Regions from separate parts of the Homo sapiens genome. Here all the other regions are linked to region 1. The links come from fine-mapping of genetic effects on gene expression. A gene starts in region 1. Each other region holds a variant in brackets. All regions are shown on one strand. Distances are between the middles of the regions. Region 1 holds the start of TSPAN9 (tetraspanin 9). Region 2 overlaps TSPAN9 (tetraspanin 9). Region 3 overlaps TSPAN9 (tetraspanin 9). Region 4 overlaps TSPAN9 (tetraspanin 9). Region 5 overlaps TSPAN9 (tetraspanin 9). Region 6 overlaps TSPAN9 (tetraspanin 9). Region 7 overlaps TSPAN9 (tetraspanin 9).

Region 1 (4,369 bases):
GCAGAGGTTGCAGTGAGCCGAGATAGTGCCATCGCACTCCAGCCTGGGCAACAAAAGCAAAAGTCTGTCTCAGAAAAAAATAAATAAATAAAATAGAAGAAGGGCAGAGAGGCAGATGGCAGAATAGATGGCACAAGGCAGGAAGGTCAGAAGCCAGGGTTCAAGTTTTGCTTCTTTCACTTAATGAGTGTTGTGACCTTAGATAAGATACTTATTCTCTCTGAGTATCATTTTCTTAACCTATAAGAAGGCAATTAAAAGTAACAAACTTCAGCCAATGCGGTGGCTCACGCCTATAATCCCAGCACTGTGGGAGGCCAAGGCAGGTGGATCACTTGAGGTCAGGAGTTCAAGACCAGCCTGGTCAACATGGCAAAACCTCATCTCTACTAAAAATACAAAAATTAGAAGGCGTGGCGGCACGCGCCTGTAATCCCAGCTACTCGGGAGGCTGAGGCAGGAGAATGGCTTGAACCTGGGACGCGGGGGTTGCAGTGAGCTGAGATCCTGCCACTGCACTCCAGCCTGGGCAACAGAGTGAGACTCTGTCTCAAAAAAAAAAAAAAAAGTAACAAATTTCACAAGATTACGTATGAATTAAATAAAATTATATACAGCTAATGTAACGTGCATAGAAAAAACTTGGCCAACTATAAATTACTTTATCAACACTAGTTATTGTTATTAATATTAAATATCTGTTCATAGGTTTAAAAAGCTCTGCCAGAATATTAAAATCTGATTAAACCAGACCAAAAAAAAAAAAATCCTACTCTCACCTGTTCAGGGACTTGCACACAGGGCGTCTTCAGTGAGTGAGAGTAGAACTGAATTACACTTCAAGTTTTATCTACCCCAATCCTCTCCCTCCAACCCACAGCCCAGCTGCATCAGCCATGCCAGGACCAAGCCGAGGGTAGGAAGCCGGTGTAATTGTCTGCCTCTCTGGCTGCATTCCTTAGCTAAATATAAATGATTTGTCCAGGCTATTGTTTGAAATTATCCATAATCCCTCTCCTCCCCTCCCCATTACTTATGATGGCAAGCTGGCTGCGTATCTCTATAGCAAAGCATATATTCAACATTCTCTGTGGCTATTTTCAGTAAAGAGAAGGGAGCTGGCAGGTATATATAGGGATCCTCGCATGAGTCTTCAGTTTTCTCCACTAGTCCAGGAAAGCTTCCTGGAGGAGGAAATACCTGAGTCACCCCAGGGAAAAGGACAGCTGCAGGTCAGAAGGGCACGCGCACATAATGAGAGACTGGGTCTCTGAACTAAGAGTTACCAGGTAAGGCAGGTAAGCCCCTGCCTTCTTACCCCCCGTTTTGGTGATGCGAGAAAAAGGTAGCTCAGGGGATCCCATACTAGCCCAAGCTTCCCCAGACAAAACAGGCATTTGGGGGAAGATGAAGCAGTGACTCGTATATTTTTCAAAGAGGGAGGAGATCCAAGACTCCAGTTCCAAGATGTACAAGTACAAATATTGCTCTTACAACAACAAGCCGGTTTCTTGTTTGGATCTTTTTTTAAAAACCACAAGAAAGTTTTTTGAAGTCCCAAACTTGAATGCACAGATGGGCTAGATCTCCAACTTCGGGATGTGCCAGAGTCCTGTCACTCGGAGTGCTGATCTTCCAGCAGTGGCCCAGGGAGCGGTCGCGGGTGCCGGGGGGCTGCAGGCCATATCCCAGCCCTGCCCGAAGGCCCCCTGGCCCTCTCTGGGGTCCTTGTATGGACTGTCCCAAGCGGTGCACGGGGTCACACAGTCGGAAACCCTTGCCGGCCCCGGGTTACTCCCTTTCTGAAACGGTCTTCCTCGGAGCCATCCCCTGGAGGACCCCACTTCGCTCGGTGCCCGGGCCCCGCACCCACCCTCCCCTTCCCGGCCCGCTTCCCGCACGGCGCCTACTCTGTTCCTCGTCCTCTCGTCCCACCGCCGCCCTGCCCACACTGCCTCCCGTGGGCGCCCCCGGCCGCTCCCCCTTCTCGGGTCTCGGCCTGGGGGTGCCCAGCCCGCCCGGCGCCGGCTCAAGGCCGCGCGACTCCGCACGCTCTCGAGACCCGCCTCGCCGCCCGCCGCCCGGGCCGCACTCACCGCGCCCGCAGGACCTGGGGGTCTCCGCTCTGCTCGCGCTCCGGCACCGCCGCCGCCGCCGCCGCCAGCGGAAACAGGGGGCGGGGCCTGCCCGGGAATGGCGAGCCTGCGGGGCGGGGCGGCCCGGGGGCGGAGCGGGGAGGGGCGGGGCGGAGCGGGGAGGGGCGGGGCGGAGAAGGATCGCAGGGCTGAGCGGGGCGCCAGCGCCAGTGCCCGGCACTGCCCCGGGCTGGGTCCCCTGCGTTAGAGGAAGGGGAGCCCGGGGACGGGGCACGGGGCCCGCGAGGCACGGGTGCTCTCTCGGGGTTCCGGAAGCCTCCCTCCCCGCCCCGCCGCCCGCATGCCCGGACCGGCCGCTCCTCCGAGGTGCTATGATCCCGCCTTCCCCCTGCGGCGAACGGGCCTCTTCCCGGGGTAGGGGCGGGGAGGTCCGGGCCTGGCAGTGCGCTCTCCTGGGCTCTGCGCCCACACGGCACCCAAGGGCCTTCCTGGCCCAGGCCTCGGCTCTCTCCCTCGCGCCAGGCTGCCTGGCCTCGCCACCCCACCCCCACACCTACGAACCCCTTCCCTGGTGTTTCGGGCGGACTGTGCGAGATGCTGACAGCGCGGGTGTGTGTTGGAGCCTGCCTGAGACACCTCCCGCAGAAAGGGCCATGCCTCCCCAGGAGCTGGCGGCCTCCAAGGGCGACTACAGGGCACCGTGTGCCTGAGGGGTGCGCTAAGGCAGGAGAAACTCCAGCTAGGCATGTCTGGCCCGGGCGCTTTTTCAGGCCTGGATTTTATGTGTTTTTTGCTTTTTGTTTTGTTTTGTTTTTTCTTGAGACAAGGACTCACTCTGTTGCCCAGGCAGGAGTGCAGTGGTGCGATCACGGCTCACTGCAGCCTCGACTTCCCGGGCTCAAGTGATCCCGCCTCAGCCTCCAGAGTAGTTGGGACTGTAGGCGCGCACCACCACGTCCGGCGAAGTTTTTGATTTTTTTTGTACAGACGGTGGTCTCCCTGGGCCCAAGCTGGTCTCAAACTCCCGGGCTCAAGCCATCCTCCTGCCTCTGCCTCCCAAAGTGCTGGGATTATAGGCCCGGATTCTTAAAGCTAGAAGGCCTAAACTTGTTTCCAAAGAGCACTAAAACGCCATCTCTTCTCATCATTACTGTCATCAAAAATGTCTTCTAGGCCAGGTGTGGTGGCTCACGCGTGTAATCCCAGGACTTTGGGGGGCCCAGGTGGAAGGATTGCTTGAGCTCAGGAACTCAGGAATTCAAGAACAGCCTGGGCAACATAGGGAAACCCCATCTCAAAAAAAAAATGTTTTAATTAACCGGGTGTGGTGGCACACCCCTGTAGTCCCAGCTGCTCCGGAGGCTGAGGCTCAGGCGTTGGAGGCTGCAGTAAACTAGGATCATGCCACTGTACTCCAGCCTGGGCAGTAGAGGGAGACCCTGTCTTTAAAAGTGAAATTTTTTTAAATTTTAAAGAAACTGTATGCTGTGCTTCCCACGTGCCCTACCATTGCACTAAGCTTGACTGGGGACAAGTTTTTAAAACCTGGCTATAATCACTAGGGTCACTTTTGCTTTCTGCTAATTAGACTGGAAGTTTCCACTCATCTTCTGGGCCCCTTTCCGTCACACACATGCAACCTTGTTTTTGTCTATTAGACTAAACCCATAACCCATTTCCTTCTGATCTCCCTTTCCCCACAAGGAAAATATTCTCCTTCTACATTTTGCTTCATCCAAAGCCCTGTTCAATGCCCCTATAACAAAGTCTTCCCAAGGAACCCCCACCAGCCCCAATCTCTCCAGTCACTGCGGCAGAGTTGGGTACATGTACCCAGAAAAGGAAACTGGGTCTCAGACAGGGAAAGAGATATACTAGGATTGTCTGCCAGCAAGCCAACTCACTGGCAGACCATTGGACGCAGCCTGGTGAGGGAGTAGCCGCAGGGCTTGGGAGCCAGACACACCTGTCTGAATCCTGGCTCTGCTTTTATCGGCTGGGACCTCTTCAGGCCTGTTTTCTCACCTGTGGAATGGGGCATAAGAATACCAATTATGGGGATGGGCATGGTGGCTCACACCTGTAATCCCAGTACTTAGGGAGGCCGAGGCGGGTGGATTACCTGAGATCAGGAGTTTGAGACCAGCCTGGCCAACATGGTGAAACCCCGTCTCCACTAAAAATACAAAAATTAGCCGGGTGTGGTGGCACATGCCTGTAATCCCAGCTACTCGGAGGGCTGAGGCAGGAGAATTGCTTGAGCCTGGGAGACG
Region 2 (4,369 bases), 46 kb before region 1:
ACATAACATAAAAAAAAAAAAATCACTAATAATCACGAACTACCATTAGCATTTTTGGTGTATTTCCTCTAACCTTTCTTCTTTTTTAAAAAAAATTAGGATTTGTAGTGTTATATCTTACAATATTTGCTTGACATTTTTTCATTAATGTTATTTTGTTTTGTTTTTTCAGAGACAGGGTCTCACTCTGTCACCCAGGCTAAAGCACAATGGCATGATCATAGCTCACTGCAGCCTCCACCTCCCAGGCTTGAGTAATCCTCCCACCTCAGCCTCCTGAGTAGCTGGAACCACAGAGGCACACCCCTATACCTGACTAATTTATTAAAAATTTTTTTGTAGAGACAGGGGTCTCACTATGTTGCCTAGGCTGGTCTCGAACTCCTGGGCTCAAGCGATCCTCCTGCCTCAGCCTCCCAAAATGCTGGGATTACAGATGTGAGCCACCACACCTGGCCTATTTTGAGTCATTATATATAATTCTTGAAGACATAATTTTTAAAAGCCCACACAGTGGTCCATCAGGCTGGGCGCGGTGGCTCACACCTGTAATCCCAGCACTTTGGGAGGTCGAGGCAGGCGGATCACCTGAGGTTGGGAGTTCAAGATAAGCCTGATCAACATAGAGAAACCCTGTCTCTACTAAAAATCCAAAATTAGCCACGCGTGTTGGTTGTGCATGCCTGTAATCCCAGCTACTCAGGAGGCTGAGGCAGGAGAATTGCTTGAACCCACGAGATCAAGCCATTGCACTCCAGCCTGGGCAACAAGAGCAAAACTCCATCCAAAAAAAAAAAAGAATGTATCAAAATTTATATAACTAATTTTCTATTGTTAGACATTCAGTATGCTTCCAATTTTTAGCTACTATAAATAGTGCTGCAATGAAAAAATATAACTACTTTGGTATAAACTCCAAAGAACAGAATTATGAATGAATGTTTCTAAGGCCTTTGATATAAACTTCCAAATAATTGCACTAAAAATAATTCTAAGCAATGTTGCATTTTTGCAACTCTAGACATAAATGGGACTATATCTCAGTATTTTCTACATGGACAGTTTAAGTCATGCTGACAGATAAATCCGTTCTGTGCGCCAGGAATTTCTCACTTCTGTTTTGAAGTGTCTTCTACTAGTTGCTCATATACCAGCTGAAAATGTGCTTCCAAACTACCCTGGCAGCTCCACTGCTAGCACCAACCACATTGTATCTTACATCAGAGGCAGCTGGTGGCCTGCCTGCTTCCCGCACTCCAGGAGTGCAAGGACCAAGCCCGGCTCACCTCTGCCTCCTCCCTGCACAGCTCCTTTTAAACCTCTCATCCTTCATCAACAGTTCTCAAACTATTTTTTAAACTCTTCCGCACATCCTCATCCCTCCCTAACTCATGTGTCACAGGATACGAAGTGGGAAGGATCTGAGACCTTGGGCAAGCTCCCTAGCCTCTTGGACTTCAGACTCATCTGTAAAATGGGAGTAACCATCCCTCTCCCAGAGAGTGCCTGCAAGGATTAAGGTAGGTAATGCATGCAAAGCTCTTAGTAACCATGACAGGAGCCTTAGAAAATACTCAATAAGTAATAATTTTTCCCAAAAAAAAAAAATACATAATAATAAACCCACCAAAAAATTGTTTAATCCTCCACACACTGGAGGAGATTAATGAATCATACAGCTGTCTCTCTCATCTGAAGCTCGCCCAGGCCCTGAATGCCTGGAGAGAGACTCAGAACCTTCGGGGACTGTGCCAAACCCACTGAGCCTCAGGCCAAGGGCAAGGGAGGTCTGGCAATGCCAGGCTTGGGACGGCAGGCGGGCAGCTGGTCAGCACAGAGCCACAGAAGCTCTAGGTCAGCTGTGCACAAAGAAGGGTTAAGGACAAGCTACAGGGAAATCAAAAAGAAACAGCCTGAATCAATCCAACTGGGACAGGGCTCTAGGGCACCAAGAGTAAGCAGGGAAGCGGTTCAAGGAGCAACAGGTTCCTCCCAACTAGCAGCTTGGATGCAGGTGAGGGATGCAGACGCCACTCCCGAGCTAACCCTGGACAAATCTCCTGTTGTTCGTCGACGGGGCTGGAGTTGAGTCACTGTGGCATTGTCCAGCCACTCTATCAGGAGGAAACAGCTGGACAGACCAACACTAAATGCAGGAAGCCTCAAGCTCCACCAGGGCTCCCTGTGGGGCCGCCTCCCTGTTTGGGAGGCCTAGCATCCTGCCTGCCTCTCCCCCAGGGACCCCTGACCAA[C/A]CCTGAAGCATCCACTGTCCAAACAGACATCCCTGTTTCCTGCCTCCAAGTGCCTGGGGCAAAACGCAAGCTCTCTGTTTGGCATTTTGGCAGCCCTCCTAGGGGCAAGGAGGCGGGGTCACCTGCTTTCAACCTGCCAGTAAATAGAAACCAAGGTGTAGGAAAACAAGTGGTAGAGAAAAAACAATGACATTTAATTAATTCAGAAAGGACATACTGTGTAGCAAGAGGACAGTTTTTCTCTGGACTAAAACATGAGCAACATCCAAAAGTGGACGCCACCTCCCTGCAGGAGCACATTCAGACAGATGCGGGGACTCAAACCTCTCTGTTAAGAGGGGTTCTTGCCAACTTCCTTATCTATGGTCTCCTAGGCTCAGACAAAAGATTCAAAATCCCTGCTAGGATTTAGAAATAACTCAGGGCCAGGTGTGGTATCTCACACCTGTAATCCCAGCACTTTAGGAGGCCAAGACAGAAGGAGACCAGTTTGAGACCAGCCTGGACAACATACAAACAAAAAAAATTTTAATTTGCCAAGCATGGTGGTGTGTGCCTGAAGTCCTAGCTACTCAGCCGATCAACGCTGCAGTGAGCTATGATTGTGCTACTGCACACCAGCCTGGGTGACAGAGCAAGACTCTATCTCCTTTTTTTTTTTGAGATAGAGTCTCACTCTGTCGCCCAGGCTGGAGTGCAGGCTCACTGCAAGCTCCACCTCCCGGGTTCACGCCATTCTCCTGCCTCAGCCTCCTGAGTAGCTAGGACTACAGGCACCCACCACCACACCCGGCTAATTTTTGTATTTTTAGTAGAAATGGGGTTTCACTGTGTTAGCTAGGATGGTCTCGATCTCCTGACCTCGTGATCTGCCTGCCTCGGCCTCCCAAAGTGCTGGGATTACAGGCGTGAGCCACGCGCCCGGCCAACTCTATCTCTTTTTAAGACAAAAAACGAGGGGAGGGGAGGGGAGAACTCAGAAAAACAGCAGGATGGTTCACAGTTTAAAGTCAGACAGACTCAAGCTGGAACACTGTCCCTAACAGTAGCTGTGTGACTGATACAGTATAACATCACAGCCTTCAGTCAAGGTTTGCAAACTCAAGTACCTACAAGGTGGAAAACATAAATTCATGAAGTTACTGTGTACAAGGGCAAGTCCCAGTACTGTGTCAAGACTGAGGGGTCAGGAAAGCACAGCCCCATGTGGAGGTGGTGCCTGAGAGCCAGATCCAGCCAATTGTTGCCACCGGGCAGCACAGGCTCAGTGTAACTAGACCTTCCAACTTTAAAAAGCCAACATCAGCCAGGTGCAGTGGCTCATATCTATAACCCTAGCACTTTGGGAGGCCAAGGCAGGAGGATCACTTGAGCTCAGGAGTTTGAGACCAGCCTGGAAAACATAGTGAGGCCTTGTCTCTACAAAAAAAAAAAAAAAAAAAAAAAAAGTTTTAATTAGCCAGATATGGTGGCATGTGCCTGTGGTCCCAGCTACTCAGGAGGCTGAGGTGGGAGGATCACTTGAGTTTGGGAGGTCGAGGCTGTAATGAGCTGTGATCACACCACTGCACTCTGGCCTGGGCAACAGAGCAAGAACCTGTCTCAAAAAAAAAAAAAAAAAAAAAAAAAGCCAACATCCCCTGTTTTGAAAAATCTCTCCAGTATGTCAGCTGCGCCCAAACAAAACGCATCTGTGGCCTGGATCAGACCTAGAGGCCACTGGATTGCAACCTCAGCTCTAAGCCTGAGATCTGCAAAATGAGGGCAAATAAAAGAGCCTCGCTCTGGGAGAATGAGATGGGATTAGGTCTGTCAAGCATTTCACACCGCCTGACACACAGAAAGCACTTGATAAATGGTGACTATTAACTATGCAGAGTTGGAAGGGACTTCAGGAAGACCCACCCCAACCTTCTCATTCCACAAGATGAAACTCAGACAGGTCCTGTGACTGAGCCACAACCTGCAAAGGAGCCAGTGGCCAGTGGCAGGCTGGACCCAGGCCTACTGACTCCCACCTGAGTTCTGAAGGCCCAAGCCGCCTCTCTGACTTACAGAAGCAGTTTATCACCCACCACTCCGTAAGGGTCCCTCCTGGGGGCTGGTCTACCCCATTA
Region 3 (4,369 bases), 200 kb before region 1:
ATTTCCTGTCCAAAGTCCTCCAGGCCCCCAGGAAAGATCTGCGGCCTACCCTACGGGGGCGCAGTCTGGACTGGAAGGCTTCCTCTCCAAGCCCTCAAACCTGTTCCTGCCTCCATCACAGCTCCCGCCTGGCACAACTCCACGCATGGTGCACGTCTGCCCAGTGAGGAGGCCTGTGCAGTACAGCGGGTGCCACGCACATCCCCACTGCCACGCTCCCATCCTCAAGGGGCTCCTGCCGAGATGAGCTCTCTGCTCCCATCTTCTGATGGCCCAACACTAACAGAGCCTCCCGGCAAGAAGAAAACACAAAGGTCACGCCTCGATTTTCCAGGAAGCTAAGCGGGGGGACAAGGAAGTCCCCAGTCACACTGCTGGGCTGGGACAAAACCTTGGTTTCTGGCATTTGGTGCAGAAGCCTTCACTACCTGCTCCCAGGGGACCTCCGACTGACAGGTGACAGGCACCAACACTGGGCCTTCGCCACAGGTCCCATGTCCAGATCACGGCCCCCACTGCCCTCCCTGCCCCTGGCCTCTAGTTTCCAGCCCAGCCTGCATAGAGCTGCCTGATTCTTTTCCTAAAATGCCTCTCATCATGCTGCTCCCTAGTGTGACCTTAAGATTCTTTAGCTCTCGGAGGCCCAATTTCCTTTAAAACTTGGGATTTGGACGAGATCATTTCTTAGGTCCCTCTGGCGCAGTCTTAGCCGAGTCTGAGACATGGTGCTCTCAGCCCTCAGCCCAGTGGTTCCCAATCAGGAGCAATTCTGCTCCCCAGGGAACATGTGGCATGTCTGGGGACGTTTTTGGTTGCCACAATGGGAGGGGCTGCTCCTGGCACCTGGTGAGTAGAGGCCAGGGGTGCTGCCAAACACCCCGCAGTGCACAGGACAGTCCACACAGTCAAGAACTGTCTGGCCCCAATTGTCAATAGAGTTTGAGAAACCCCGCCCCCTACCCTATCCCCCCACGCCAGGCACCCACCCTTGGGCTGCCAACATCTTGAGAACAGCCATTGGAGAAAGAATCTGATGTGTTCCCTCCAGCGGTGGGGAAGGGAGAGCCAATGACAGCGATATGCCCAAAGATGCCAGCTGGTGAGCTGGGGACAGCCGGGGCTGAGATCGGGGAGGGAGCAAGGGCAGGAGGGAGGAGGTGATGGCAGAGACAGGTTGGCCATGAAGTCTTGGTGAGCCAGGCCTGCCCCGCACAGGCAGGAGGGCAGGAAGTCAGGAAGCTGACCTCTGAAGCCAGTGCAGCGGGCAGGGAGAGGGTGCGGCAGGAGCAGGAGAGGGAGGTGCAGGGCAGGGGAGCCGCCTCTGGTGGAGGGAGCCCAGCACATAGCACAGGAAGGAGGCAAGGCCTGTCTGTGGTGGCACAGCCAAAGCTCAGGGCCGGAGAGCTTAGCTGGTGGCATTTGGGAAAATTCCCTTCCAAAACCAGGGGTTTGTCTCAGCTGAGATGACTGAGCTATAATCTAGCCCACGATGGGACAATCTGGGGTGAGGCAGGGTGACTCAGGGGATTGGGCCCCAGGCAATGCTAGCACCAACCCGCAGAAGGTCACCAGCCACTCCTGGTGTGGTCCAGGCCTGATTGATGCCCTCCCCGGAGCAGGTGCAGGTCCAGGGGCCAGCCTGAGTACCAAGCCTCCCCTGCCCCTTCCCCAGCCGAAGGCATTTCAAAATAACTTCAAATCAGGGCTACAAACAAATCCACATCCAAATTTGAGAAGACGAATCCCATCCTTACATTTGCCAATGGCCTCCTTGAGGGCCAGGATTTGGGTCTGTTGTTTTTGTGGTTAAATCCGCAGAGCCTAGAGCAGGGCTGGCAACGCCTTCAAATCCCACAGGGCGATCTGGTCTGGGCCGTGCCCTGACTCCGGAGGAGGGAAAGGGTGCAGGCCCC[C/T]AGCACAGAGAAAAGCCTCAAGTCATCAGGCTGTATCAGGATCTTCTTTGTCACCAGGGGCCCATCCACAATACGCGCAGCAGGTAAACTGAGGCCCAGTCAGGCTATGGCCATACAGTGAGCCCACACTCCAGCCTCACCTCATTTGTTAAGTCTTGTAGTTAGCTAATATCCCCACGGTGTCTTCCTTGTCTTCAGTTTGAACCATGCTGACTGTGGTTTAAATACAGGCTTCTGCCACGTGTCGTTACGTATGTTTCACGCAGGCATCCTATTTCTCTGGGGGTGAGGGACACAATTCCCCCTTCGGGCTTCCCCGTCCTGAGCTTCTCCACCCACTTCCATGCTGCTTAGATCCTAGGGGCAGCCACTGCCCATATCTCATGGGTCCCATCGGTCTCCCACTGGTGGGAGCGGCCCCTCGCCAGGGATGACTCCTCTGCCAGCGCCGGGCCCACAGCAGAGGACACACCTAGGACCTCTCAGGCTTCTGTGTAGACTTGCTGCCTACCCTCACTAAACACACACACACGGCCGGGCGCAGTGGCTCATGCCTGTAATCCCAGCACTTTGGGGAAAAAAAAAAAAAACACACATGCACTTCCAGGACCCAGGTTTGTGTCTTATCCATTTTTCTTCCATTGTAGGGCCCAGAACATGCCTGGATTACTAGATAAATATTTGCTGGAGGAATGAATAAATGAATGAATGATGGGGATGGATGGAGGGGCCTGAGTGGGCCATAGCTGGGGAACAGGACCAGACCCAGACATGCAAATCCTCCTGAAAAAGCAGCCTCCTCTTCACCCCGTCTTCCCCACTCCTGGAACCCCCAGTGCCCTCAGGTTGCTCCCACCTCTGCTGCCCTATTTTAATCCCCACTGCCTCATGTGTCTGCAGAGCCCCACAAGGCACCTGGGCTTCTGGCATCAGATGTCACTGGTGGCCCCTGACCTGGCCCCCCTGACACCCTCATCCACTTTTTGCTTGCAGGAAATTTTCAAATGCTAGGACTGAGTGCTCCCTAATGTTTCTATGAGCCAAGGCCAGGCCCAACATTTAATGGCATTTAATAAATTAGTGGATGTGGAGAATTTTTAAAAAAGAAAAAAACCAAAACAGCTTTAATTTCACAGCCTGACATGCTGGCTAGTAATGAACCTGCCTGGCTCTGGAAGAAGCCGACCTGCCAAGAACTTCATCATGGGGAGCAGAGACAATACATCGGTGCCAGGAGCGCAGCCGCTGCTTTGTATTTCAGACACCCCTTGCCTCCAAGGGCCCCCGCAGCTCATTCATTCTCACAGCCATAAAGGGAGAGGCAGGAGGGGCAGGGAAGGCAAGAGAGCAGACGATGCCTCCAATTCTGCATGGAGAGAAATGAAGGGACAAAGTCACAGACACATCTTTGCTGAAGTCACCCAGCAGGTAGGAGGACCACAGCACCTTGGAACCATGGGGTGGGATGCAGCCACACGGGTCTCCCAGGGGCTGAATGCTCACCATCCCACAATGCACTCCATTCTTCTTTTTTTTTTTTTTTCTGCATACCTCTAATCAGCCAGGAATTCTTTCTTATTAATGCAAGAATCTACTTCCCTGTGGCTAACATGCATCAATCCTAGTTTTGCCCAAGAAGCCCACTAAGAACAAGTAAAACAGGCCTGTCTCAAACTGAAAGTTAGGCTCCAGCTATGGTAGGACCCAGCTCTTCCCCTCCTACGTTCTGAGCTCTATACTTCTAGTAATTCAGCCTAAGGCCCCATTGGCTTGAGTGGCAGCCATAGCACAGTTTAGTCTCACACTGAGCTGGTGCATAACTTCAAGCCAGATGGCATGATTCCTTGGTCATTACTGTTGGACCCCACACTTTCTCTCAAAGCCTCCAATTCACCTTCATACCTTCACTTTGCAGCCCCTAATCTCACCAACTTACAAAGGTGTCAGGGAGATGACACCCATATTTTTGTGCCTAATTTTCCTCCAAATAAACATTACATAAAGCATTTGCATATCTACAACCCAGTTACATTTTGATTATACCAGAATGGGGTTATTCTCCATGTGAGACAGTTCTAAGAGAGAATGTCTACCCACGGCCAAACTTAAGGGGCATCGTGTTTGGGGGCTGCAAGCCTCTGCAGTTATAAAGCTCCTGAATTATGTTTCAAGACTGTCAATTCTCTCCAGCCAACTTTGTAACCCTTCCCCAATTGACCAAAACCCCTAGCAGTTGAGAGTGAGTCCTGTTACAATACCTACACCTCTTGCAATCTAAAATCCCGAAGTGTATATTGGGGTGGAAGAGTCCACGATGAAGGAGATTCTATCCGAGACTTTGGGGACAGCCCCTACCCCCCTCCAGGGGTGTCAGGGCCCTGCGTGGTGGGATAAATGCCCAGTCACCAGCAGTCCTGGCCCCCAGCTCCACAAAGGGCTTGGTGTCCTCTGGCCCC
Region 4 (4,369 bases), 140 kb before region 1:
TCACGTAGAGTGCAAGATCTAAGCCCAACCCCAGCCAACTCAGGGGACATTGCCATCAGGGACCCCAGGATGCTACACCTCAGCCCCTGGCATCCAAGGTCCGGGCATGAGGCCCAGGGGCAGGTGGAAGGCTCAGCTCCTCAGTTATCTCCTAAATACAGTGACGTGAAGAGAGCTCAGCAGGGAAAGAGCCACGAATAGCAGCCTGGGAACACCAAAGAAAGGGAACGATGAGGAAAAATAACTCCAGTAAATTAAACAGCCGGGCAACAGGCTGCCCTCTGAGCAGTCTCTCAGCCAGTCTGCCACTTCTCATCTCCTCTCCAGCCCTTCCTCCAACTGCAGTTCAGGGGCCTACTCAGGAGGCTCAGCTTCCCCCAGGACAGTGGGCCCTTGGGGTGGTGGCCTGGCCTGGACCTTCACCAGGACCCAGGGAGCCCTCAGAGCCCTCCAAAGCAGGGGCCTTGGGGATCTGTGTCTGAAGGCTAGAGATGAGGGCCTTGGCCAAGGAGGTTCCACCTCCCTAGGGTGCCTGCAGAGAAAAAAGCCCACGTGGACGTTTTTGGGAAGCAGAGAAAGGCAGCAGGTGACCCCTTAGGGGATCCACATGGCTGAATCTGGAAGCCAGAACCACCTCCGGACCACACCTGTGACAAACGGGCTTCCAGGCCCATTAGGGCCACTCCGGGTTCCAGTGGGTTCCACCTCAGCCCTGCAGGCCCTGTGCCCAGTGGGACCTGGACACCAGGCACCCCATCTCCCTCTCTGTATAAGCCTCCCCACTGACGAGATGTGTTTGAGAAGAGCTTTGGGTGCTTTGAGACGGTACGAAAATCCTGGTAAAAGGGAGGCTTGATGCTGGAGAAGCTCCCCATATCCTCCCAAGCCCCGCCTCCAGAACCCCAACCACTCTGACCAGCGAGTGCCCAGTGTGAGCTTGGACATCTCGGGGGAGCAAAAGAGATGTGGACCCAGGGCCATGTGGGCACGAATGAGCACCTCCAAAACCTACTCCCACATCTGGAAGGTCCCAGCAAAAGCCATCTGGCTGCTTAGTCAGTAGTCGCAGGATGATCCAGCTGAGAGCCCCACAGGCAGATAGCCCAAGCAAGCAAATCTGTCCAACTCCTGCCAATCACAGCACAGACTCCCCAGCTCCCAGAGGGCCCCAGGGCTGGGGTGGGGGTGGGGTGGGGATGGGGTGGCTCTGAGCATGGACTGAGGTTACTTCCCAGCCCAGGACTCCAGGAGGGAGCAGAGGCCAGAGCGACTGAGAAGGAAGCAGGGCGACCAGGGATAATGGATCAACCGCTGGGAACATGGAGCCGTGTCCCTGTGATTCCAGGATGCACAGGTTTTCATGCTCATCCCCGTAAGTCCCCAGACAGAAGAAATGAGCCTGAGCAAGCCAGACAGAGAGGTCCCGGTGGAACGTGCTCTGGACCAACCTACGTTCTCCACTCTGATACAGGCTCCAGACGGAGAGGTCCCGGTGGAACGTGCTCTGGACCAACCTACGTTCTCCACTCCGATACAGGCTGTGCCGGGCCCACCACGGAGCCTGGAGAGAGCAGCAAATGGCAGCTGGAGGGAAATGAGGGGCCCCTCCCACCCCCACACTTCCCAGACAGCCCACAAGTGGGGTTCCCCAGGTGTCAGACGCTGGGGTGCCTCAGCAGGCAACTGCAGGAGCCAGCAACATGACTTGGGGCTGCCTGGTGGAGAAATTCCCCAGGGAACAAATCATTGCACAGCTTTAGGGCCCTCTAGGAAGGCTGAGAGATGGGATGGAAATAGATACAGAGAACAACAGGAAGTCATGAAAAGAAAAATAAGCTGGCGATCCTGATTCCAATCAGCAGAACCCTTCCTAGGCCTCAGAGTACTTTCAGGATCACCATCCCATTGCAGCCCACTGACAAGGCTCCCAGGTTGGCCAGGCAAGTTTGATTAAGATTTGATTCCCACCTTACCGAGGAGAAGCTGAAGTCAAAGATCCTCCCAGGGAGTCAATGGCAGAGCAGCAGGGTAGCCCAAGCCTTCCCCCAGCCAGCTATGGCCTGCGGCGCTGGTGCACGGACACCCCCTAAATGTGTGCAGTACTTTCCAGTTTAAGGCACCACCCTTCTCTTGGTTTGGATTCTCACAACCACCAGAGAAGCGGGTAGGACAGGTTCTTGAATCCACACACAAGGTAAAGCATCCCTGGCTTTGAGCCATGAGTTTTAA[T/C]GGGGAGACTTGGGGATGGGGGTGGGAAGGGTATGTGTTTGTTTCCTAAAGAGGTAGCAGGTGGGAGCGCAGGCCAGGGCCAGGGGATAAGGGAGGTGGGCTGTCAGGGGCTGCCCTGGGTAGAAGGGCACAGTGAACAGGGTAGAGCCGGGTGAGAGGCAGGCAGCGCCAGGGAACAGCCCTGAAGACGTGTTCAGGGGGATGGGGGGAAGGAGGAAGAAACAAGAACGCTCTTCCTAATGACGATCGCTGGAGGGAGGAATTGGAACAATAGTAATTAAGGCTTCTAACAATAGGAAGGAGCCGCGACAGTTCTGTGTGTCAAACAAGGTGCAGAGCTTCTCCCCAGCGTAGCCAGGGTGCTTAATACGGCAGCCCGCCCCCTCATTACCTGCTTAGAGGGCGTGAAGGCCCTCCCCTGCAGGGGGGAGGGCGTGTTCAAATCAACTGACTGCTGTGGCTGTGGCCCCATCTCCTGCCCAGGCCCAGAAACGACTTCCATTTCTTGCTACCCTGAAGTGGGAAATGGGCTAACAGGGAAGATTCTCCCCCCACCACTAAGCAAGGAACTGGAGGTCCGAAGAGGCAAATCCAACAGGAGTTCGTCCACCCTGGAACCCAGCGCTCCTGTCCCGACCCAGCCCCGCGGCAGGCAGCCGCTCACTCCAGGCCTGTGAGCTCCAGGAATGGCAAAATCTAGGGCAGCTTTGTCCAGGCAGTGAGTTCCAGCACACTGAGCACACACGTAGTCCAGGTGAGGCAGTCCCCTTTCAGTGTCACCACCTATGAGACAGAAGAAACTCATCCGTGGTCCATCACTCTACCGACGCTACTATGAGGATAAGGAAGATAAAATATCTCAATAATCATCAGCTCCTTAAAAAAGACAAAGGGAACAAAAGAAACATATACAACCACAGAATGTCAGGGCCCAGAGAGACCTCAGAGATGAGCTGGTCCAAGTCTATCATTTTCCAGATGTGGAAACTGAGGCCCAGAGACAGAAGCAGTTTGCCCAGGATCACACGGCTAGTTAGCAAGCATGCCGGGGACTAGAACCCAGGTCTCTGGGATCAACTCCCTGCTCTTTTCCACTCTGCCACTTTGATCCCAGATACAAGCGAGAGTTAACTGGCATGCATCTTCCAAGAAGAGCTGCACACCTGCATTTGTAGGAGTGGGGAGGAAATGCAGGATGCATGGCCAGGCACCCCAGGATCCCGCAGGCTGTTTGGGTGGCCACCCAGCCCAGCCCCTCCCTGCCCCAAGTTGTGAGAAGTCTCCATTTAGGTGGGAAGACAGAAAGCTAATCGGCAATGCAGAGAATCTTGTCAATATTCCTCCCACAGCTCCTGAGTAAGACCCACAGCCCTCTACGGAGTGGCTTTTGTGAAATATGCACTTTTCAGACTCCCCTCCTCCCAGCAGGCAGGCTGAGAAAGGGACAGGTGAAGGGGGGCTGGAAGGGGGAGGGGGGCTTCGCTGCAGCTCTCTTTAGCTGCCATAAATGGGAACAAAGTGAGCACCTCGTGCACTCAGTACCACATCAGCATTCCTCCCTCCACCCTTGCTCTCTCCTGAGGGTCCCTGAACCTCCTCCCCAACCAGGCCTCTGAGCCCCAGGGACTGGTCACGATGAGTGTCCTAAATGGCTCAGACATAAAGAGCTCCTGCCCAGAGCCCAGGCTTATCGGCCTGACAAGCTGTCGCTCTGATTTGGGTCCAATGAGCTCTTGCCAACAAGCGGGGGAAGCCCCCCTTGAGAGGGCAGGGGGCAGAGTGAGGCTTCAGAACACACCCGCCCTCACTGTACAGAGAACAGAAGGCACAGGATCCTCACCGCCAGCAACTGCCGTTTGCTTAGAGACCCCTGCAGACAGACTCCCCAGGTTGCCCGCCCAGCCACAGTCCCATGTCCTCCAGACCTTCCTCCACCTGGCGTTCTTTAATGCCCTTCCCCGCATGATCCAAAGTGCCATTGCTAAAAGGGGTCTTCTGCAACCAGCACACCGCTGTACCCAAGCAATTCCTAGCGCTCCACAGATCTGTTTGACACCCTTTGCATTAGCCCCTTTCTCTGGCTTCCAATATCACCATGTTTTTCCTGCCTTCTCCTTCTCCACCCTCCCCACTCCCTCTG
Region 5 (4,369 bases), 27 kb before region 1:
TATGTTGCTGAGGGTGAACTCAAATTTCTGGGCTCAAGTGATCCTTCTGTCTCAGCCTCCCCAAGCGCTGGGATTACAGGCGTGAGCCACCAGGCCCAGTCCCATCTTTCTTTTTAAGGACCTCCTCCACTTCCCACCACCAGTTTCTGCCTTTGTTAACTTTACATTTTACAGGCATAATGCCTCCCAGTCTGCAGATCTCAGAACACTCAACCACCTGTGTCTCCTGTGTCCTCAGTCTCTCCAAGCTCTCTCTATTATACAAGAGGGGTAAACTGAGGCACAGGATGTGGTAAGCTAAAAGCCATTATTGTGGGACTCCACCACTGTCAGAAACTCCCATGCCAAGTCAGCTGCCAGCTGTTGGTGCCCGTCTCTGACATGTGTCCCCCAAACACCTCCCTGTGGGCATAGGTGGGTATATGCACAGGCGAACTAACCAATCACGCACGTGTGTGTGAGAGCCACAGCATGGGCAGGCATGTGTGTGTGTGCGTGCGCGCACAAGAGCGAGTGTGCATGCTATGTGTAGGTGCACATGGGGTGAGGATGGAGTGGGTGAGGGGTAAGGGGGTATATGAGTGTGTGTGTGCAAGACTGAGTGTGCGCTGCACATACGAATGAGCACGTGAGGGTAAGGGAGGCGGTGATGAGTGTGGATGGGACCAAGCACACCTGAGAACATGAGTGCCCGTGACCATGTGTGCATGTGTGTGTGAGCGTGTGTGTGTGAACGTGTGTGAGCGTGTGTATGAAAGTGTGTGTGCGCGTGTGCGTGTGTGCGCATGTGTGCGTGAGTGTGTATGAGCGTGTGTGCGTGCGCGTGTGTGCGTGTGTGTGAGTGTGTGTGTGCACGCGCGTGCACACAAAGCAGGCCCTAGGCCCCCAGGGGCATGTACACTCCTTGAGACAGCTACTAGGTAGGGCAGGGACCCTCACCCCACCGGGATTCAGACACCAAAGCACATGGTTAACAGAAAAGGAAGCACCCCCAAATCCAGAAGCCCCTGTTTCCCGCTCAGCTCGCCTCTTCCCTCCCTGCCCCTCTCAAGGCAAGCTGCACAGAGGCCTAGGCTCCTGGGTTCCCTCCCTTGCTCCACCCCAGCCTTACTCTCTGACCCCAATTTTTCCAGCCTGTAGCTTTTTTTTTTTTTTTTAAGACAAGGAAAAATATCTTCCTTACTTCCTCAGGGAGCAATAAATATAAGGATTATGGAAGTGACGTTCTGAAAGTGATCTGAACTACTTAGAAGGAAAGGGATAGGTAAAATACGGGGCATGTTGGCCCAGACTTCACTCGGAAACAGAAGGAGCTTCCCTCCCCTGGGAGAGGACGGCACATCTGCCGCACTCCTCCATCTGCCTGCCTCGGGGCACTGAGCCCAAGTCGGCGGCAGAAAGCTCAGGCCTCTACACAGCAGGGCTTGTCTGAACACAAAGACACAGGGTCCTGTAGGCCCAGAGAGGCTGCTGTGCGCAGACGGGGCACAAATTCCACTCCCCAGGCAGCCTCCCCTCATCTGGAAACAATTTGCTTTTCCTCCTACCACACAAGTGAGTTAAAGCAGAGGGCCTGCCCTCACCCCTCTCCCAGGGTGACCAGCTGAACGCCTGAGAGCAGCCAAACAACAGGAACAGGGTCCCCCTGCCCATCACCCCCACACGCCTGTCCACTGTTGTCCTAAATGACCGGCCCTTTTGCTCTGGAAATATGGACAAGAGTCCAGGGCACAACCTTTGGAACCTGCCTGACCTAAGCTGACAGCTGGCTCCACCACCTTTTAGCTCTGTATCCTCGGACAAAATGTTTACTTTCTCTGAACTTCTTGCTAAGTAAATTGGAGTAAAGTTGCTGGGCGGATTAAATGAGGTGCCACAAAGAGTCTGCACCGAGCCAGGCACACGATAAGCACTTGGTAGCTAACAGTGATTAGAGGCCAGGCGCAGTGGCTCACGCCTGTAATCCCAGCACTTTGGGAGGCTGAGGCAGGAGGAATGCTTGAGCCCAGGAGTTCGAAACCAACCTGGGCAACATAGCAAGACCCCCATTTCTACAAAAAATGCAAAAATTAACCAGGCGTGGTGGTACATGCTTACAGTCCCAGCTACTCAGGAGGCTGAGGTGGGAGGATCTCTTGAACCCAGGAGGTTGAGGCTTCAGTGAGCCATGATCATGCCACCGGACTCCAGCCTGGGTGACAGAGTGAGACCCTACCTCAAAACAACAACAACAATTAAAAAAAAAAAACAGTTATTAGTACTGCTACTGTCACTTACCGATTTTCTACCGAGCAGCCACAGCAATCCTTTTGAAATGTATGCCAGCTCTCCCACTCCTTTGCTCAAAGCCCTCCATGGCTCCCATCTCTTCTGCCATAAGAGCTAAAGCCCCTAAGATGGCCTAGATAATCCAAATCCCATGACCTTCCCCTTGCTCACTCCCCTCCAGCTGTACCAGCCTTGAACAGGCCTCATGTGCTCCCACCTCCTACTCCCGCTGCCCCAGGAGGCACCACCCCAAGATGTTCACAGGTTCACTCCCTCCCTGTCTTCCAGTCTCTCCTGAAAT[G/A]CCAGCTCCTCAGTAACGCCTTCACGGCTCCCTGACCCCGCCTCATCCTCCCGTCCCGCCCTGCTTTACTGTCCTCCATAGCATTTGCCACCTCCTGATATACACCAATTTTCATTGTCTGTCTCCTCCACCAACATATGAGCTCTTGAGGGCAGGGATTTTTCCTCACTCCTGCAGCCCCAGAGCCGGGAGCAGTGCTTGGCCAGAGGAGCCCTTCAAATATCTGTGGGATGAGGCTGAGGACACTTAGTGTGAACCAAGCAGAGGCTGGGACCAGAAACACAAGCCCTAAGCCCACTTTCCCACTCTCCAGGTGCTAGTCCTTTGAGGCTGGTGGCTGCCTCATCCCAGCCACTTCCCAAAGTCACAGCCAAGAGACAACAGGAGCAGTGTCTAGGAATACATGTTCGTGCATGGCATGGTGGGGAGCCCTACAGAGACAAAGACCCCAAAATGATTTCTCCCAGCAGCATCCCCCAGGCCAACTTGCAGTCCCAGTTTAGGGACCTTTGAGGTCCCCAGGTGGGCACGTCCAGTCCGATTCACCACTGAGTCCCTGGTTCCTAGAGCCTGCCTGCACACCAGAAGTGTTCAATGAGTGTTCAGCTAAAGCATAAGTGAGCAAATCCCATACAGATAAGCACGTGAGGAATGGAAAGATAACCAACATAAGAATCCTCAGTAAAATATTAGTTGACCTAAAACAGCATGCAGACAACAGCTACCGCGGACGAGGCTGACAAAAATAGTGAATATATTTTCATCATAGTCACATTGAGGGCAAGTGTGTTCTGAGGCAGGAACTGGTGACGGCAGCCAAGGGGAATAGAGAACAGGCTCAGGAAATCTCTTTTCAGTGAGTGCATTTTAAGAAGTAGGACAAAACTCTGCACATCACGACAGAATGTACTTGGTCAACGCTGACTGGGATTATATCATGTTTTTATTACTGTCTTGACATCCCCCAAGGGAGCCAGCTGGAAACTAGGAGGCAGAACATGTAGGTTTCTAGACAGGCTCTCCCACCTAACAGCAAGTGGCCTGGAGCACATGGCTTCACCTCGTGAGTTCATCTTCCTCATTCAAAAGATGGGCAGGTTGGGTGGAACACTGTCCTGGCCACCTGGACACTGGGATGTCCCTCTCTGGGGCTCACTCATTCAGTCCACAAATATGGGTTAAGTGACCTCTGTTCCAGATCCAATTTTGAAATATGCAACATGTTATTATTTACTGTAGTCACCATGCTGTGCAATAGCTCTCAAAAAAACATTCCTCCCTGGGGCCAGGCGCAGTGGCTCACGCCTGTAATCCCAGCACTTTGGAAGGCCGAGGCGGTCGGATCACGAGGTCAGGAGATCGAGACCATCCTGGCTAACATGGTGAAACCCCATCTCTACTAAAAATACAAAAAATTAGCCGGGCGTGGTGGCGGGCGCCTGTAGTCCCAGCTACTCAGGAGGCTGAGGCAGGAGAATGGCATGAACCTGGTGGGAGGCGGAGCTTGTAGTGAGCTGAGATCGCGCCACTGCACTCCAGCCTAGGTGACAGAGCAAGACTCTGTCTAAAAAAAAAAAAAAAAAATTCCTCCTTGGCCAGGGTAAGCAGCTTATACCTGTAACCCCAGCACTTTGGGAGCCAAGGCAAAAGGATCACTTCAGGCCAGGAGTTCGAGACCAGCCTGGGCAAAATAGCAAGACTCCGCCTCTACAAAAAAATTTTAAAAATGTTGGCAGGGCATGATGGCATGAGCTTGCAGTCCCAGCTACTTAGGAGGGTGAGGCAGAAGGATCGCTTGAA
Region 6 (4,369 bases), 68 kb before region 1:
ACTGGTCTAGAACAGTACCGTCCGACGTGGCAGCCACTAGCAACATGTGGCCACCTACATTTCCATTTTAAGTTAAAACTGAATAAAATTTAAAATCCAGCTCCTTGGGGCATTTTCAGTCCCATTTTCAATGCTCAACGGCCACATGTAGCCGGTGGCTACTGTACTGGGCGGTACAGAACAGAACACTTCCATCGTTGCAGCACTGGGCTGGCTGGTTCTCTCTCTTCGGGGGCAGAACAGGCCCTAGGTGGCTCAAACTGAATCTGGAAGTGGGCAGGGAAGGTGGGGGCGATCCTGAAGGAGGGAGAGGCCACTTCCCGTCGCGTCGGTGGAGATGCCACCAGGACTCAGGCTGCAGCATGCCCACCACCAACCTTGCTCCTCGGCGAGGGTCTCCCGGGCCCCAACACTCAGCAGGATGCAGCAGGCAGCTGTCACACCACACTGCATTTTTGGGATACATGGGACGCCTGTCATTCTCTCCAGCCCCTGGCGGGCTCCTCATCCCAGGGCAGGGACCGTGGTCCCTGCCTCCTGCTGCCCAGCAGCTCCTCCATACCTCACCTGGGTTCCAGGCTGGAGCGTGACCTGCAGAGGGCCAGGGCTCCCCTGCTTCCAGTCTCCACCCTAAACTCAAAAATATCTCACTACATACCCTGCAGAAAGGAAGTAAGGAGAAAAGGGGAGAGAATGCTAGTTTTAATCAAACACCTTAAAATCAAGGTACCAACAATGAACTTTCACTTACATCTACCCATTTGATGTCCAAAATACTACTGAAAGGTGAGTGTGGTTAAACCCATTTTCCGATGAGGAAACTGAGGCTCAGAGAAGATAAGGGACTTGTGCAAGCTTGTAAGTGTCACAATCTGAATGCAAACCCAAAAAAGCATGGCCCCAAAGCTTACAATCTACCCACACCCCTTTCAGGAGGCCACGGGATCCACCACCATTCTCCTCCCAGAGAATGTCCAGACGCACAAGCAGAAAGGTCAAGATCTATAGCTTTTTGCATTGCTGGCCTAGAGAGCACAGAATCCCAGGAAGATCTCAGCACTGGGTGGGTGGAGAAAGGCCATAGACACAAAGCAGGTGGAGAAAGATAAGGAGGCAGGAAAGAGGAGGAGAGTGGAGGCAGCAGAAAAGTAAGATCAAGGAGGAAGAGCAGAGCGCACAGAGGCATTTAAACTTATTCCAAGTGTAATTAACTATTTGTGAACTGTTTGTCTAATGCCTGTCTTCATCAATCGGATCTTGGATTCCATGAAAGCAAGGACCTTGTCTGTCTCGTGCACAGCTGTGTTCCCTGCACAGGAGGTGCTCCACAGATACTGGTAGGAGAGACGGAGGGTAGACAGACAGGTGGGCAGAATGAAAACCAAACTGTCAGGGGACTATGGAGGAAGAAAAGCCCTCTTTTCAGAGACCACCATCTCCACACAGTCTCCCCACCCTAAGCTCCCCGAGGGCCTTGAGACACCCAGGGGAAGCTGTCCTCCTCCAACGGGCTCCATCCCCTGACCTCGCATCCCAGCGCCCTCCTGCCCCTTTGCCATTGACCACAAACCTAGTCACCACTCCCCTGATGGCCACGGGTCATAAATCTAGGCTGTCAGGGCCAGAGAGACCTCAAAGATCGCCTGGCCCAATCTTCTCATTTTACAGATGACAAGACTGAGGTCCAGGAGGGGAGTGGGCTTGCCGGGGGAGCTCACAGCCTCAAAGTGGGAAAGCGTCCTCGTGCCTGTGCCTGCGGGAGCCTCGTGGTGGAAGGCCACCGCCAGGCCCCGCGTGCCCCGTGGCTCGCTCGCAAGGCCAAGCCAGTGCCTGCAGCCCATCTGTCTCTTCTGCCTGCCAAGAGGCCTTCCCTCCCCTGTGCCCATGCTAATGAAACCCACCACAGGTGATTTCGGAACACTGCACCAGGAGGAGGTTTTGCTGGCCACCACGCCAGGCCTTTCATTTCCGATTTCCCAGCCTGACAC[C/A]CCAAATGGTCTGAGCCCTCTCTGCTCTGAACCCCATGTGTTCATGCATCACCTTGGCGGATGCCAGCCACGCCTTCCCCCAGCCATCTGGACAGAAAAATGAGGAATGAGCAGGACAGGATGATCCTGGCAGAGAGGACTGCTGGGAAGCTCTGGACACCTGGTCCCTGTTCTTCTGCCCTCACTGTGTATGTGCTATTAGAATTCAGGGTGACGAGTGAGTTTCTCTTCACCTGGGACTCAGTTTCCCCATATGCACTTGAGTCTTCTGCCCCAAACTCAGCAAGATGTACTGAGGTGGGTGCTCCTCTGCCCACGGGTATCAAAAAGGAGGAAATCCACAGCAAACCCTAGCTGAACACCTCCTAGGGACGGGAGGACCCTGGCCCTGGAGGAGCTCTTCATCAAGCTGGCACGTCAAAACAAGTTCACACAAAAAGGTCATTTCCCAAACAAGAGCACTGCCAAGGAAGAACAAGAGCACCATGGACTGGCAGTCAGGGAGGACACAACGGGAGAGAGCCTTGAGCTGGCACTGAGAGCTGTGCACGTGCTCAAGAGTCTAGAGGTGAATGCAAGGGCAGTCGCGGTCCTGACCGGAGGGCCTCACGGTCCAAGCAGTTGACAAACGCGTCATCCACCAGAGGACGCCGAGGGCTGCTGCACGCACTGTGTGCTCACAAGGGAGTGGGGGGAAGAAAAAGGAGCCCTAGGAATGACCTTGATGTGTGAAATCAAGGAGGGACATTTCCTAGGAGGTGCCCTTGAGCTCTCTGCACAAGGAAACAAAGCAATGCAACTGATTTGAAGTCCAATTAAATGCTAAGAAACACAATTTGATGATCAGATTATCCTCGTAACATAAAGGTCTGGGGGAATAGGGAAAAGGGACAAATATCATCAGCAGCTATGGTTTAAATGCAAGCTTTTTGGGTTCTAATTTTGCCCAAACACAAGCCTCACTGAAGGGGCACCTGGCCATGGCTGACATGCTAGCACTAGCCTCTGTGTTCACTTCTCAGGGCGCAGCCCAGGGCTACCCAGATGTGAGAGAGGATGATCTCAGGCAGGAGCCTGACAGAAGCTGCCCGCACCTGCAACCCCCACTAGAAACCACTCCATGTGATTCCCGGAGCCACTGCAGCAAAGTACCCCGAGCTGGGAGGCTTCAACAGTAGGGATTTACGGTCTCGCGGTTCTGGGGGCTGGAAGTGCAGAATGGAGGCATTGGCAGAGGCTCCCTCTGCAGCCTCTAGGGGAAGATCCTTCCTGGCCTCTTTCTAGCTTCTGGTCATTGCTGGGAATCCTTGGCAGGAACATTGCTCCAACCTGTGCCTCCGTCTCTGTCATCACATGGTGCTTCCTGTGTCCCTCTTATAGGGATACCACTCACTGGCCAGGCACAGTGGCTCACACCTGTAACCCCAGCACTTTGGGAGGCCAAGGTAGACAGATCACTTGAGGTCAAGAGTTCAAGACCAGCCTGGCCAACATGGTGAAACCCTGTCACTACTAAAAATACAAAAATTAGCCGGGCGTGGTGGCAGGTGCCTGTAATCCCAGCTACTAGGGTGGCTGAGGCAGAAGAATCACCTGAACCTAGCAGGTGGAGGTTGCACTGAGCCAAGATCGCACCACTGCACTCCAGCCTGGGTGACAGCAAGACTGTCTCAAAAGAGTAAAATAAATAAAAAATAAATAAATAAATAAATATATCAGCACACACTCGTGATTTTGTAAATATAAACACAAATAAACAGAACAACAGAGATACAGATATGTGTCCATGCCTGGGTTGACATATATCTATTTCTTAGTTCTATTCTCTGAGAGGACCTAGAAGCAATGACACCCCAGTAGCAATGAACGCACCTAGCACCTAGATCTTGGTTTCTAAACACCATGCTCCAGCAAAAAGAAGCAGAGCTCCTTAGAGAAGTGATTGATTCAGGCCTGGGGCAGGAGAAACATAACACGACCCGGAGCATCTTGTGCCAGAAAGTAAGGAAGAGCTCCAGAAAAGACAGGAATACACCAAAGGGCACAGAAGCCCATCTGAAAGTGCTCCCTAGAGCTTCCCATGGCCAAGGCTGCAGCAAGTTGAACAACAAAATAAATATCTATTGTGCTGTTCCTGTAACTCTAACCTATAGGATAAAATATATATCCTGATATTTATTATATATCCTATATCCATACATTTATACTTTTTATCTGTGAAGTAAATAAATATCCATGAGTCTGTAATGATAAAAATAACTAATTGAATAAATAAGTGGGACAGAAGAAATAGCTCTTCCTTCTTGGAGAATTCCAATTAATAAATGCAGAAGAAATGAGGGAAACAGAAAATTACCATTAGGCAAACACCACAATTATAA
Region 7 (4,369 bases), 210 kb before region 1:
ACCCTACTCTCCACTCCCACCCCCACAAAACACGAATCCTGATAATGCCAACGGTTCTGTCCTCCTGTTCCCGATTTGTGTGTTACTTAAGGTGAACAGAGGAGTGACTGGTGCTGGGTGGCCGTGTCTCAGCTCTTGGATCAGACAGGCAGGTGGAGGCTGGAGAAGAGACCTGGCCCCAGTGGGAAACCAGGGTGACAAGACAAACTGTATAGGAAAGGCAGCCGCCCACCAAGGCCCCACCTGATCAAGTGCAGCAGACGCTGGCTAGCGGGTGAGGTCCCCGTGCTCAGTCCCACGGATTCGCGACCTTTTTGAACGGCAAAACAGTAAGCCAGACCAGCTGCAGTTTGGAGGGGGCGCCCTGCTGCAGCTGAATCCCACTCCTGGCCTCACTCCCCAGCCCGTTTCTCTCCCATGCCCAGCTCTGCACGTGCGTGACTCCGGCTGCTTTCTTCCCGTGGCTCCGGTAACAAGAGCCAGTCTGACCTCTCTTGGGTTTTCTGTATTTCTTCTCCTTGGGATCACAGATGATATAATCGCCACCCAACCCACTGCTGATGTCCGTGGCCCCAGGGAAGGAGGCGAAGATCTTGGGACCCAGGTGGACGTGATTCCCTCCTTCCCAGCAGGGCAACCCACAGCTGAGCAAGGCTGGCGGGGAGGACCGTGGGTCCTCACCCCTGTGGGTCCCCTGCCACTGTCCCAGCACAGCAAAACCTAAGGACTGCTTCCCCTTCCAGAAGCAAGGGGGAAAGTGAGCAGCATCCGAACTAGAGAGGTATTTGTCTGACAGTTTCTAGCAGGAATGTCTGTGAAATAACTGGGGTGTGCAGAACCTGTTGTGGGAATACCCACATGGGGTGGAAGGGGAAGCCTCGCGTGCCAGCAGAGAGCGGGAGGAAGGGAGAAAGAAAAAACCAACAACTGCTCATCAGTGAAAAGTCTAAGGACCCCTCTAGCTCTGCCACAGCACCGTGGGGCCCCCCTGCCCTGGCATTTCCAGCTCGATTGGTTAGCAAACGCCACCTCCCGTGCAGGGGCACCTCCAGCCTGCTTCACGCTCCACCCGCCTCTCCCAGGCTCCTGTCCTCAGACACCAGGCCTGGCAAGGTCCCGTGTCCTGTCCACGCCCCCTCCTTCCCACACGTTCTGAGGGCGCAGGCGCGCCCCATCCGAGAGCCTCCTGGGTGTCGCACGGTGGTCTGTCCTGATTGAGACTGGACAGATGTCCTCTCTTCCCACCCATCCCTCACCCTCAGGGAAAAAAAGTCAAACCATTAAAGAAATCAACACAGTAAAAAGTTACAAATCAGAAATCTAACCCTAAACTTATCTGAGAGATAATATTCCTGAATAATCATAGAGTAAAATAAAATAAAAAAGTTACATTGTAAGGTATAAAAAGCCTGGGCGAGATGCTCCAGGGGCCTTGCCCAGAGGCCGGCAGACCCCCGCCCCGCCAGGTGCCCCATGGTGGCCATGGATGTCGCAGCCCCCGCTGGGGCGGTATCTCCACGGGGCGGGCACTCTGCTCCCCACCCCATGTGGGGACAAAGTGTCAGTGTGAGGAAGGGCAGGGGCAGAAGCCCATCAGTGCCGGGGGTTCCTCCGGAGCGCACCCCAGCCCACCCTGTCGTCTTTGGCAAATACGCATATGCAGATGCAGGAATCCAGGGGCCCCGAGCCCCAGGTCTCCGTGTGCCTCCTCCTCCCTGGCACTCCACCCACTGAGAAGTCCGAGGCTGAGGCAGGGTAGGTGGGGTAGGGCAGGCTGTGGGGGGTGGGTGCAGGGGTCATATCTGGAGAGCGCAGGCAGG[T/C]GACACAAAGCTCAATCCTCTTCCCTCCACAGGGCAGCAGGGCGGGGTGGGCACTCCCGGCCAGCCCGCTCATGCGTCGTACTTCTTACCAGTCCGGTGGATGTGCTGGAAGAGGGTCATGGAGAAGGCCATGCCCAGGATCTGAAAGACACGGGGAGGGGCCTGAGGCAGGAGCTGCAGCAGCCTGGACCTGACCTCAGCCCCGAGAGGCTTGGGATGTCACAGGGCACCTAGAGCAAGCGGGGATGGCCACTGGTGTGCCAGGAAAATGCTTATGGAATGAAGACATGAAGAAAACCGTGAACAGAGGTCACCCTGGAGACACACACAGGTGAACTCTGGCTCAGCCTCGTGGGGCTGTTAGACCAGAAGCCATCGAACCTCTGCAGGATGCATACGTGTGCCTACTCAGAGGGGCGCTGCAGGCACGGAATGCACGGAGGACCTGGCTCTACGTGGGGGCTCACAGGAGCCAAGGTGGGGAGTGGGAGGTGGCAGGGATCATTCAGGACTCAGGCCAGCCGGGCACGGTGGCACTTTAGGAGGCCAAGGTGGGAGGATGGCTTGAGATCGGCCTGGGCAATAGAGGGAGACTCCATCTGTTTTTGGAAAAAAGTTGTAAATCATTCAGGTATGGTGGTGTATATGCCTGTAGTCCCAGCTACTTGAGAGGCTGAAGTGGGACGATGGCTTGAGCCCAGGAGTTTGTGGCTGCAGCGAGCTATGACGGCGCCACCGCACTCCAGCCTGAGCAACAAAGTGAGACCCTGTCTCTTAAAAAAAGAAAAATAAAGGACTCCTGTCAAGCCTCTCTTGTCTGCTTGTGGAACACATGGTGCGATGTCTTGGCAGCAGCAGGGCTGTCTTTCCAGTGATGTGTGCTCAGGACCACGTCACTACTCGTTTGTGCCCCTTCCCTCCTGAATCCTCAAAGGAGCCGGGGACCCAGAGGAGTGCAGGAGGCAGAAGGAAGCCCGGTGTGGTCTCACGGTCACCACAGAGAGTGTGCCATGTGCACAGGCTGTAAAGATGGTGACCGGGGGACACCGTGTGTGTCTTGCATGGCTCTCTGAGCTCAAGGTTTGGGCAGAACTGGGGGAACCCACGGGGGTTGACTCCAGCTTCAATATCCCAGCCTGGGCCTGGCCACAGGCAGCCCTGAGCACCACTCTCAGTGCTGAGTAGACACGTGCTCTCATATCAGAGCTCTGCGGAAACGGTGGCAGGCACAGCTGCTAAGCTTGAATAGCTGTGATGAATTCCAGACCCTCCGCCGTGTACCAACACTGCTTTCACTTCTCTGTGCTTCCTTCCCTCTGAGGCTGAGGCCAGCAGGGTGGGTGAGGCTGCTGGGGACGCCCCTCTTACCTGCATGATGAGGATGCACATCCCCACCGTGCCCAGCACGTGCTTATTGTCATCGAACCACATCTTCACCTTTTCATAGCAGCCCTGGGGAGCGAGGCCCACGAGGTTAGGGTCCCAGCCCAAGCATGCGCTCCCTGCAGCCCAGCCCCCAGCTCACTCTCTCCTTCCACCTCGTCCTCGCTCTTACCTCCCAGCCCTCCCTGGCCTCAGCCCTGTCCCCATCCCTTGGCGCAGCCTCCGCCCCACCCGCAAGGCCAGCTGCAGAGCCTCAGACCCCATTCAACCCCTCGCCCTCTGACTCTCCCAACTGTGGGTCCAGCCCCACCCCCCATTTTCCACCTGTCTTTTGGCTTTATTTTTGTGAGCCCCCCACCGCCACATTCAGCCAACCTCTTAGTGTCCCGGGCCCAGCCTCCCCTATAGGGCTCCCCGTGCCGGGGCATCCACACACGGGCTCTTGGACCCAAGCGGTCCATCCCCAGCCTCACCGTTCTCCACAAAGGCGTGGTGGCGTTGCGCCCGCAGCCCTGGGAGTTCTCCATGCAGCAGCGGTCGGGAACCGTGTTCTCCCCCAGCACTGGGTACCAGTCTGTGTAGTCAGTGACACCACAGCATCGCATCTGGCCAGCAGGAATGGAAGGGGCAGTCAGACATGCCATGGCCCGCCCCTTCCTCCCCAGGGCCTTCCCCTGCCCAGGCCAACCCCAGTCCCCGCAAAAGTGGCCACCCTGCAGTTAAGGGAGGAGACAAAGGGCTTGCTTCTTGTCCCTTCTTTGGGCTTCAGCCGGGCCCACTGGAGAAGTGAGTGAGCACTCCTTCCTGGAGACCAGAGCGGGAGAGGGCAATGCAGCCCACCCCTCGGGCTGGGCCCCTTGGCTCAGCCCTGTGCTTGCCCACCAGCACCTCTGCTCTTTCTGTAAACCGTCCCAAGCTGACTGCCACCCAACCCCCTGCCGGCCCCTCCCCAGGGCTTAAAATGGGAGCATCTGGGACTATGGACTTGTTCTCCTCCTAGAGCCAGGGCCTCCTCACCTAAGCCAAGCCCCATCATGGAGGCAAATCTGTTGCTAAAATAAATTCAGTCATTCATCCCAAAGCTCAGCCACAGCTCTCTCAGGCCTGCCCCTCCTGTATCCTCATCCCTCCCTGGCTGTACCTTGCTGTATCACATCTGACTCAGC

What was found.
Region 2: its variant is fine-mapped to the expression of TSPAN9 in tibial nerve (GTEx, PIP above 0.99).
Region 3: its variant is fine-mapped to the expression of TSPAN9 in whole blood (TOPMed, PIP above 0.99).
Region 4: its variant is fine-mapped to the expression of TSPAN9 in nasal epithelium (TOPMed, PIP 0.92).
Region 5: its variant is fine-mapped to the expression of TSPAN9 in esophagus mucosa (GTEx, PIP above 0.99).
Region 6: its variant is fine-mapped to the expression of TSPAN9 in cerebellum (GTEx, PIP above 0.99). The same link has a PIP of 0.9 or more in cerebellar hemisphere.
Region 7: its variant is fine-mapped to the expression of TSPAN9 in lung (TOPMed, PIP above 0.99). The same link has a PIP of 0.9 or more in fibroblasts and whole blood.

What each region holds. Positions count from the first base shown.
Region 1 is chr12:3,075,181-3,079,549 of GRCh38, reverse strand. It overlaps TSPAN9 (tetraspanin 9), which reads right to left and starts at 2,171. Exons shown (of 9, transcript NM_006675.5): 1 at 2,097-2,171. RefSeq lists silencers at 2,066-2,565, 2,616-2,665.
Region 2 is chr12:3,120,865-3,125,233 of GRCh38, reverse strand. All of the region lies in intron 2 of TSPAN9 (tetraspanin 9), which reads right to left. Among named protein-coding and RNA genes, the nearest start is that of TSPAN9-IT1, 27 kb to the left of the region's middle. The variant C/A (reference allele first, on the strand shown) is at 2,253.
Region 3 is chr12:3,270,632-3,275,000 of GRCh38, reverse strand. All of the region lies in intron 3 of TSPAN9 (tetraspanin 9), which reads right to left. Among named protein-coding and RNA genes, the nearest start is that of LINC02827, 28 kb to the left of the region's middle. The variant C/T (reference allele first, on the strand shown) is at 1,914.
Region 4 is chr12:3,212,960-3,217,328 of GRCh38, reverse strand. The region is part of intron 3 of TSPAN9 (tetraspanin 9); the gene reads right to left. Among named protein-coding and RNA genes, the nearest start is that of TSPAN9-IT1, 65 kb to the right of the region's middle. RefSeq lists an enhancer at 2,097-2,636. The variant T/C (reference allele first, on the strand shown) is at 2,230.
Region 5 is chr12:3,102,220-3,106,588 of GRCh38, reverse strand. All of the region lies in intron 2 of TSPAN9 (tetraspanin 9), which reads right to left. Among named protein-coding and RNA genes, the nearest start is that of TSPAN9, 27 kb to the right of the region's middle. The variant G/A (reference allele first, on the strand shown) is at 2,570.
Region 6 is chr12:3,143,414-3,147,782 of GRCh38, reverse strand. The region is part of intron 2 of TSPAN9 (tetraspanin 9); the gene reads right to left. Among named protein-coding and RNA genes, the nearest start is that of TSPAN9-IT1, 4.2 kb to the left of the region's middle. The variant C/A (reference allele first, on the strand shown) is at 1,989.
Region 7 is chr12:3,280,637-3,285,005 of GRCh38, reverse strand. It overlaps TSPAN9 (tetraspanin 9), which reads right to left. Exons shown (of 9, transcript NM_006675.5): 7 at 3,677-3,808; 8 at 3,189-3,272; 9 at 1-1,961. The coding sequence ends at 1,890. Among named protein-coding and RNA genes, the nearest start is that of LINC02827, 18 kb to the left of the region's middle. RefSeq lists enhancers at 1-279, 280-780. The variant T/C (reference allele first, on the strand shown) is at 1,821.